3 linked regions of the Homo sapiens genome follow. The protein of the gene in region 1 purifies or fractionates together with the protein of each later gene. This does not show direct contact. Each region holds a gene or a part of one and is shown on either strand. Other genes may lie near its edges.

What was found.
Region 2: the proteins of ZNF44 (region 1) and SMARCAD1 purify together in Homo sapiens (affinity purification with mass spectrometry; one large-scale study listed by BioGRID and IntAct). This does not show direct contact.
Region 3: the proteins of ZNF44 (region 1) and TCF7L2 purify together in Homo sapiens (affinity purification with mass spectrometry; one large-scale study listed by BioGRID and IntAct). This does not show direct contact.

The regions. Positions count from the first base shown.
Region 1 is NC_000019.10:12,271,169-12,274,616, forward strand, and holds the end of ZNF44 (zinc finger protein 44), read right to left. Parts: intron 2,898-3,448; exon of another isoform or gene 2,896-2,897; coding exon 1,239-2,895; 3' UTR 640-1,238; downstream 1-639. UniProt on the Homo sapiens protein: May be involved in transcriptional regulation.
Region 2 is NC_000004.12:94,273,714-94,277,373, forward strand, and holds part of SMARCAD1 (SWI/SNF-related matrix-associated actin-dependent regulator of chromatin subfamily A containing DEAD/H box 1), read left to right. Parts: coding exon 1-3; intron 4-1,024; coding exon 1,025-1,084; intron 1,085-1,176; coding exon 1,177-1,252; intron 1,253-2,625; coding exon 2,626-2,761; intron 2,762-3,308; coding exon 3,309-3,446; intron 3,447-3,660. UniProt on the Homo sapiens protein: DNA helicase that possesses intrinsic ATP-dependent nucleosome-remodeling activity and is both required for DNA repair and heterochromatin organization.
Region 3 is NC_000010.11:113,163,190-113,165,815, reverse strand, and holds part of TCF7L2 (transcription factor 7-like 2), read right to left. Parts: intron 262-2,626; coding exon 1-261. UniProt on the Homo sapiens protein: Participates in the Wnt signaling pathway and modulates MYC expression by binding to its promoter in a sequence-specific manner. Acts as a repressor in the absence of CTNNB1, and as activator in its presence.

The sequences.
Region 1 (3,448 bases):
TTGCAAGTGTTAAAGATAATCAACCTCAGCTAACATCCTTTGATTGAAAAAAGCTTCTGTGTCATATAAGGGAAAATATGCTAATGAACACTAAGGTTTTTTTAGGGATTCAAAGAAAAAGAACTAGCTTCCTAAAACAATGCTTCTAACTAAATATCTGCAAATATGAAGACATACCCTTCAACACAAACATCTTCAGCCCTCAAGCTGAACAGATGCTGACATTAGTATTAGCCTCCTGCAAAGAGTCAACATCTTCAATCAGAACCTGGGTCTTCCAACATAGATGAAGGTCTTGATGTCCTGTCAAGATTCAAGTTAGCCTGAGGTCTCACTGTTTATCTATGATGCCACACATCTAGTCACCTCTACACATCACATTAGGCACCATACAGCAATCATCATTGTCATAACCATCGTAATACTTGGGTTATCAAGAGAGAAGAACCAGAATTGTGGTTGGTGTTAACACATTCTTTCAGGTCATTAGACAAAAGTAATCTGAGTATTGAAACAAGAAACTGTAACATTATAGGTGATATATACGATGTAGATAGGCCTGCAATGGTTGGGTCTGTACTGAACACATATAGATTTTTTTTCTTATGATTCCCTAAACAATACAACTATGTACACAGCTTTTACAATGCATGAGATATTTTAATTAATCTAGACATTTATAGAGTATACAGGAGAATGTGGGTAGGTACATGCGAATATTCCATTTTATAAAAGAGCTGGCATCTGTGGATTTAGGTATACTCAGGGTGTACTGGAACCAATCTTCTTGCATATAGCAGGCAGCAACTCTATTTGAAAGAAATGGAAACTTTTTTTTTTTTTTTTGAGATGGAGTCTCGCTCTAGCACCCAAGCTGGAGTGCAGTAGTGCAATCTCGGCTCACTGCAACCTCCACCTCCCGGGTTCAAGGGATTCTCCTGCCTCAGCCTCCTGAGTAGCTAGGACTACAGGTGTGAGCAACTATGCCTGGCTATTTTTTTTTTTTTCCGTATTTTTAGTAGAGACAGGGTTTCCCATGTTAGCCAGGCTGGTCTCGATCTCCTGGCCTCGTGATCTGCCCTCCTCGGCCTCTCAAAGTGCTGGGATTACAGGTGTGAGCCGCTGCGCCCAGCCTGGAAACTTCTTAAGGCTTTACCACGTTTACATTCACAGGATTTATTTCTTTCAAGTATCTGAATGTGATAAAACCAATGAATGCTTTCCCACATTCCATACACTTATAGAATATCCTTCCAGTGTGTCCTTTTATGTCTATTAAAGGAACTGAGAGAACTGAAGGCTTTCCCACATTCCTTACATTCATAGGGCTTCTCTCCAGTGTGAGTTCTTTCATGTTCTCGACAGAAACTGGAACGACTGAAGGCTTTACCACAGTGTTTACATTCATAGGGTCTTTCTCCAGTGTGAGTCCTTTCATGTCTTAGAAGGAAAGAGGGCCAAAAGAATGCTTTCCTGCATTGCTTACATTCATATGGCTTCTCTGCCGTGTGAGTCCTTTCATGAGTTTTTAAGTAACTGAAACGACTGAAGGCTTTGCCACAAATTTGACACTCATAAGATTTTTCTTCACTGTGAGTCCTTTCATGGCGACAAAAGTATTTAAAAGAACTAAATGCTTTCCCACACTCCTTACATTCATAAGGCTCCTCTTCACTGTGTGTTGTTTCATGACTTTGAAAGGAAAATAAATCACTAAAAGCTTTTCCACATTTACATTTATAGGGTTGCTCTCCAGTGTGTGTTGTTTCATGTTTTCGAAGGGAACTGGAAGTACGGAAGGCTTTCCCACATTGCTTGCATTCATAGGGTTTCTCTCCAGTGTGAGTCCTTTCATGTCTTTGAAATACACTAGGAGAATCAAAGGCTTTCCCACATACTGTGCATTTATGAGGGCCATCTCCAGTGTGTGCCATCATGTGTCTTCGAAAGCTTGAGCGATGAGATAACAATTTCCCACATTGCTTACATTCATAGGGTTTCTCTAGAGTGTGAGTTCCTTCATGAATTCGTGCTGAACCAGGAAAATCAAAGCCTTTCCCACATATCTTACATTTATGAGGTCCATCTCCACTGTGCATTATCATGTGTCTTTGAAAGCTTCCAAGATGACAAAACGCTTTCCCACACTGTTTACATGTATAGGGTTTCTCTCCAGTGTGAATTCTTTCATGTACTCGAAGGGAACCGGAAACACTGAAGGCTTTCCCACATTGTTTACATTTGTAGGGTTTCTCTCCAGTGTGAGTTCTTTCATGTCTTAGATATGAACTGTAATCAGGGAAGGCTTTAGAACACTGCTTACATTCATACGGTTTCTCCCCAGTGTGTATTTTTTCATGTCTTAGATAGGAACTGTAAACAGGGAAGGCTTTAGAACACTGCTTACATTCATATGGTTTCTCTCCAGTGTGAGTTCTTTCATGCATACGTAATAAACTGGGCCAAAAAAAGGCTTTCCCACACAATTCACATTTATAAGGTCCATCTCCACCTTTTACTACCATATGTCTTCGAAGGTTTCCAGGAGAACTGAAGGTTTTTCCACATTCCTTACAATCATAGGGTTTCTTTCCAGTGTGAGGCCTTTCACATGTTTGAAAGGAGTGGCGATAACTTAAGCCTTTCCCACACTGCTTATGTGTATATGACTTCTCTGCATATTCATGACACTCCCGGTGTTTGTGTCCAGTATCAACTCTGATGTAGCAATTCAGGGATGAATGACCCATTATGACTTCTCCATTCACACTGCTTCCACATGCATCTACTCTGGCGGGAGTGTTCTTGTTTACAATACTATTTCGAATCTGGCTTAAGGTTTCTCCACACTGACTACCATCTTTACTTTTACCAAATCTCTCTACCACATCACACCTGTAAAAAATGAAAAGTACATTACTAAAGGTTTATTATTGAATTTATATTTATCAACAGGTATTAGATTTACATTTTTAACATTATCAGGCAAGCTATAAGCTTCATGTCCTGCTTCAATGTGAATGGACTGAATGTTGTGCAAGATAACTCAATCCCAGCTATTTTCAAGACAATGATATGCACATGGGGATTCTTAATTCTTTTTTTTTTTTTTTTTTTTTTTTGAGATGGAGTCTCCCTCTGTCATCAGGCTGGAGTGCAGCTGGTGCTGTCTCGGCTTGCTGCAACCTCCGCCTCCCAGGTTCAAGTGATTCTCCTGCCTCAGCCTCCCAAGTAGCTGGGACTACAGGCATGCACCACCACACCCAGCTAATTTTTGTGTATTTTTAGTAGAGATGGGGTTTCACCATGTTGGCCAGGTTGGTCTCGATCTCCTGACCTCGTGGATCCACCCACCTCGGCCTCCCAAAGTGCTGGGATTACAGGCATAAGCCACTGCGCCTGGCCTTTTTTTTTTTTTTAAGACAGGGTCTTGCTCTGTCACTTAGGT
Region 2 (3,660 bases), on another chromosome or scaffold:
TAGGTTTGTAATACTGGAGACAACTGTATTTAACTTTATCATGTTTTATATAGGTAGAAGAGAGTGTGTGTAAGGGTGTGTGTCGGAGGGGTGTTGTGGTTTCTTAGTTTGTAGAGATGAATATTAATTTTATGGTCTCTTTATACTTTTCTCCTTTGTTTATATATGTGTGTTTGATTATATTGGCAGTCTTTTAAAAAGAACTCAAATGTAAGTCAGTTTTAAAATTTTAGACCAAGGACGATTTATGTTGGTTTCATAATACTTTTAGTTACTTTTAAAAGTGACTAAGAGAAAATGAGTACTTTTAAATGTAGAATTAAACAGATACGTAATTAATTCCTACACACATAACTGTTCCATTCTTTCTCAATTCGTTGGATGTAGAAGTTAGAATAAGAGAATATTTGTACATGTGAATGTAACAAAGAAAACCCCCTTCTCTTTAAATTGGAGGTTAATAATCAACTGTAAATATAATATTTGGTCATCTGCCCTTCATTTTGATGCCTCACAAAACCTCAAGATCATTTTACATAGGTTTCATAAGGAGTAATATTGTAAAGGGTCTGTGATAAAAACAATCGCCATGGTATTTATATTTTAATTTTTAATTTTTATTTATTTTTTTTAAGACAGTCTCGCTGTGTCACCCAGGCTGGAGTGTGGTGGCTCAATCTTGGCTCACCGCAACCTCCGCCTCCCAGGTTCTCGTGCCTCAGCCTCCCGAGTAGCTGGGACTACAGGCGCCCGCCACCATGCCTGGCTAATTTTTGTATTTTTAGTGGAGATGGGGTTTCACCATGTTGGCCAGGCTGGTATCAAACTCCTGACCTCAGGTGATCCACCCGCCTCAGCTTCCCAAAGTGTTGGGATTACAGGCATGAGCCACCTTGCTGGGCCAGTATTTACTTTTTATAAAAGACTGATTTCTGAGTAGCACTTGTCAAAGTTTAGTGTTAATTTAACCATGTGAACATACCCTATTGTAGCAGATGCAAATAATGTCTCTTCTGTTCCATAGATAACTGGTTAAGGGAAGTTAATTTATGGTGCCCTACTTTGAAGGTCCTCTGTTACTATGGTAAGAATATGTCATTCTGCTTTTAACTTTGGAAATTAAAAATAAAGTACAGCACAATAAATAGTCATGTGTTTATTGTTTTTAAATTCTAGGTTCTCAAGAAGAACGTAAACAAATTAGATTTAACATTCATAGTAGATATGAAGATTACAATGTAATTGTGACCACGTAAGTATTGAGAAATTTGGGGAGGATGGATATTTATGCAGCCCCCAAATTTAAAAAAGAAATTGTAGTAGTACTATGTAGGAAAGTTTATGCTGTTAACTGTGATACGAAAGTAATAGAATGACTAATGTTGAGGATTCAGGCATTTTTTAGTTTGGTGTGTAATACCCATATAGGAGGTTTTTGTTAGTGAATCACCTCATTAATGGTGACTATAAAAAGGTTTTGCCTAGTTATTGAAAAAAGTCGTCTTGTAATAGTAATTTCTCAGTTAAGCTTAAAGTAAAATTTGAGATATCCCACCAAAATTATTTATATTTTTAACTTACAAATAAGTATCTGTAATAAATACAATGAAATTTCATTTTCTCAATGAAAAATTTGAGTTAGGGCAGAAATAAAAATGAAAAATAATACTAATAATACTACTTGGTAATAATTGATGTAAATATCTTGCACAGAACTTAATGCTCTTGTGTTACATTAGTTGATTTATTTAAAGTTCTATTTTAACTGTAGTTATTATTTCTCTCTACTGGCTTCTTGTGTAGGAGTCTGTCCTTTAAAAATTCATGCGGAATTTTATTTTTTCTTAATAAAACAGGCTCCATATGCAGTCTCAAGCTGCTAGCTATTAACTATTATTTCTTGGATCTAATCTGCTAGTTTAATAAAATATTAAGTTTTAAAGAGAAACATGTTTTAGCTTCACGTTCTTTTTTGTGCTTATTAAAATATAACACTTCATGGAGCAGATTACTTACAAGTTATACCCAAATTGACCTCCTCCTGGGTATGTAGAAGTTGTCCGATTGTAACATTAACATTTTCTTTTTTTTTTTTTTTTTTGAGACGGAGTCTCACTCTGTCCCCCAGGCTAGAGTGCAGTGGCGCGATCTCAGCTTACTGCAACCTCTTGCCTCCCGGGTTCACGCCATTCTCCTGCCTCAGCCTCCTGAATAGCTGGGACTACAGGCGCCCACCACCACACCCGGCTAATTTTTTATATTTTTAGTAGAGACAGGGTTTCACCGTGTTAGCCAGGATGGTCTCGATCTTCTGACCTCGTGATCCGCCCGCCTCGGCCTCCAAAAGTGCTGGGATTACAGGTGTGAGCCACCGCTCCCAGCCTTTTAACATTTTCTTTCAATTATGTATTGCAGCTTTCATAGCTTGGTTACAGTGTACATCAATAATTATTAAATACAAGTACGTCAGTATTTATTTGAGTATCACCCGTGTCTAGTGCTGTGCTTTAAGTACTGGCTGTTAGAAATGTGTAAATAAAAAATGATTTTATAAGACATTAAATTTCACTAGACTCCAAGCTCTTAAAGGTATAACCTTAGAGATGTTTTTTCTTTTGGTGACAGATATAACTGTGCGATCAGCAGTTCTGATGACCGTAGTCTGTTTCGACGGCTGAAACTTAATTACGCAATTTTTGATGAGGGCCATATGCTGAAGAATATGGGCTCCATTCGCTACCAGCACCTTATGACAATTAATGTAAGAGAATGTTTGTAAAGTTTTCCAAATTACTGTAAAATTTAGATTACGTAATTTAATATATGTAGTATTTATTAGCAGAATCTGTATTATGTAGTTTAATATATGTAGTATTCTGTGTTAGCAAGTTTTTTCTGTAAAAGGGAAGATAGTAAATATTTCACACTTTATGGACTAGATGGCCTCTGTCACGTATTCTTTGATTTTGTTTTTTAACAACCCTTTAAAAAATTATTAGGTCATAAGCCATAATTTACCTGTTCTATATGTTAAACTATTTATAAATAATCTTTCATCATCTCATAAAGGTGATACGAGGACACAAGTTACCTACTTATAAAAGAAGACCAATGGTTTTCGTATTCATTGCTGTTGATAATAGCGGACGTCAATTATTTAAATTACTATATCATTTATCACAGAATGTTAAATTATTAATAATGGTTTTAATTTATCTCTCCTCCCTTCACCTTTCACTGGGGAGGATAGACATGAAAGGAGTGGCTCTTTAAGAAAAAGCTAATATAAATTTTACCTTCATTCACAGGCAAATAACCGTTTGCTGCTCACAGGCACACCTGTACAGAACAATCTGTTAGAACTCATGTCGCTGTTGAATTTTGTTATGCCACACATGTTTAGTAGTAGCACCAGTGAAATACGAAGAATGTTTTCCTCTAAGACAGTAAGCATAAATGCATATTTTCTCCCAAATATGTTATTTGTGTTTTATCTGGGCCATTCTTCTGTTAGGTCTCTTTTGTTGTTTTCATAGTGCATATGCTCTATGAAGTAACTTTAAGTAGGTGATAACTCTATATTTGGATTGGTTTGGAAACCAGCCAAAATATAATGGGAAAGAAAATAGCAATTTCCCTAATCAATGGCCAGAAGTCTTG
Region 3 (2,626 bases), on another chromosome or scaffold:
CAGAGGGCGGAGGCCTTGTGGGTGGCCTCAGCGAGCAGGAGGGCGGGTGGCGGAGGCATCATGGACAGGTGGGCCAGGGGGTCGGGCTTCAGGGACAGCGACAGAGGCTGGGTCTGCTCAGTCTGTGACTTGGCGTCTCGGGGAGGGGAGCCTAGCAGGTTCGGGGAGGGGGGAGGCGAATCTAGTAAGCTTCCATCTGAAGAGGGTGGGCTGAGGCAGCTGCCTTCACCTTGTATGTAGCGAACGCACTTTTTTTTTCTCCTAGAAACAGGGGAGAGAGTTATCTGTGAATAGAGGGCACAGATGCCAAGGGAGAGAGTTACCTAATGCTCACACCCAAGCTGAGGTCACCTAAGGGATGTCCCACAGAGGTGGCACGCCCAGTGGTCCGAGGACAATTACAGTGGCGCCCCCCCAGGGTGGGTCGCTTACTTCACAGTGCCCAGATCTAAGCCTGCTCTGGCAAACAACTTATTTAAGAGTCTGAACTCTCTACTTGCTTCCCCCAACCCCTACTAAACACCCATGCCCCACCATGCCCAAATTATATACGAGAGCAGCATGGAGGCGGCCACCTGCAGATGGTGGCATCTATTTGCCAAAAAGTGGCTTTGTCCAAATTGAGAAGAACTGAAAAGCTCTTTTGGCTTAGACAGTCCCTCACTTTCCCATCAAGTTTCCTCGGCCCTTCACTCCCATTCCCACCACTACCACCCCCATCCCCCAGTGATGTGTGTGTGTGAGTGTGTGAGTGTGAGTGTGTGTGTGTTTAAAAGAGAAAGACAGAGCTCCTTCCCCAGCCGCCTCGTATCAATATGAAACTCTCAAAATGCTCACTGTTGAGCCCACATAGCTGAAGGCAGCGCTAGCAAGAGGCTTAAAGGTTTTAACACACCACCACCATGAGGCTGCTGGCGCCCAGAGAGCTTTCGGGCTTGTCTGTTAAGAACCACACCAAATCAAGAGAGGTCAGAATCAGGTGAGAAGGGAGGAAGGGAAACAAAAATAAAACAAAATAAACTTAAAACAAAAACAAAAAACAAAAAACGAAACAAAAAAAAGAAACCACCAAAAACAGGTAGAAGAGGATAAACAAAGGTGGGGGAGGGGGAAGAATAAGAAAAACAGAAAATGATTCAAAGGAACGAGAATAACTGGTTGTATGGCCTGCAGGTTGTGGATTAAATTAAGATTCAAACTTGATTTTTTTTTTTTTTTTAAGATTTGGGGCTTTCCCCTCCCCCACCCCGTAGTGAGAAGGTTGGAAGGAGAGATGGTGAGGATGGGATGGATGGAGGGGCATCCTGCTCTTGTCAATATGCCAAGGCTAGTCAATGGAGGGTGCAGCACAAGCCGGTCACCGAAGTGACTACAAAGAAGAAGTGCCAGGGAATCGCAGCATGGACCTTCCTGGGTTTGGGTTATCGTGATTCGTGTTTAAACCAGAAAGACTAATTTTGCCCTGCACCAAAACCAGCATCTCCCCTCTTCACTACTCATTCATGTAAGAAATAGGAATGAGAATTTCAGAGCCCTTCTTGCTTAGCATCAAAGGATGAGGTCGGGGAAAATCAACTCAAGAAATTGAGCATGTGACTTCAAAGCTTCTCCTCCCATTAATCCCAGTCTGATGGGATGGTATTTGGTAAGGAAAGGTGAGCCTGGGGATCAACCCCACTAATGCTATAAAAATAATGCAGATACAGGAAGTGTGCTCATCTAAGGACCCTAGAATATTGTCAGAACCATGGCTGATAACACTCCAACTGGAAACACGTGTGTAAGCACTGGCCAGCTTTCTGCCGCTGGAAGCAACCAAGATGCTGCCTGCTTGAAGGCAACCACTGTCAGACAATGTCACTGGCCTTGGAAAGGAAGGGTGTGCTGAGTTCCTCCTCTCAGTCTGTGCCCCAGAGCTGTCTGATCATGCCCCTCTGTGCTTGGGGTTTGGACTCAGCAAGATGGCAGGAAGGCAGGGAAGGAGGGGAGGGGTGTAAGGGAGCATGCTCAGTCCTCCCTGCCTCCCAGAGGCTGAGATTCATGGGGGCTAGTGGCCTCAGGGTCTGTCTGTTCCTTCTGGGTCAGAAGGAACTCTAGGGGAGCAAGCACCACCCCCTCTCACCCTCAATTTGGCAAGGTTCCTTTTTCTCCCTGGGAGAGAGTAAATAGACTATGGGTTCTGCTTCCATCCCAGAAACCAAGATAAATAATTAAGCCTCTCAGAGTTTTAAACCACCTTAGCCTGCAGATCAAAACATGCTCAAAAAACTAAGATGTCCATGCATTTTAAAAATGGGAGAAGGAAAGGAGGTGGGGAGGGGGAGGGCATAAGCAAAACTGAGAAAGCAACAGAGAAAAACAGAGAGAGGAAAGGAAAGGGAGAAAGAAAGAAGCAGGGAGAACAACCAGGAAGACAAGGGAACAGCACCAAGCAGCATTCCATGCTATATTAGGGCAGAGTGAAAAGATGGGAAAAGCAACTTGGTGGGCTCAAAACAGAATCTTGTTAAAATGTCCACAAATGTCAAATGAAACTAGAAACCTTGTGTGGCAAGCTAGAAGCCCTGATTGGCTAGGAGCATTCTGGTACCTTCCTCACCCCTCCCACCCTCATGACGTGGAAGTT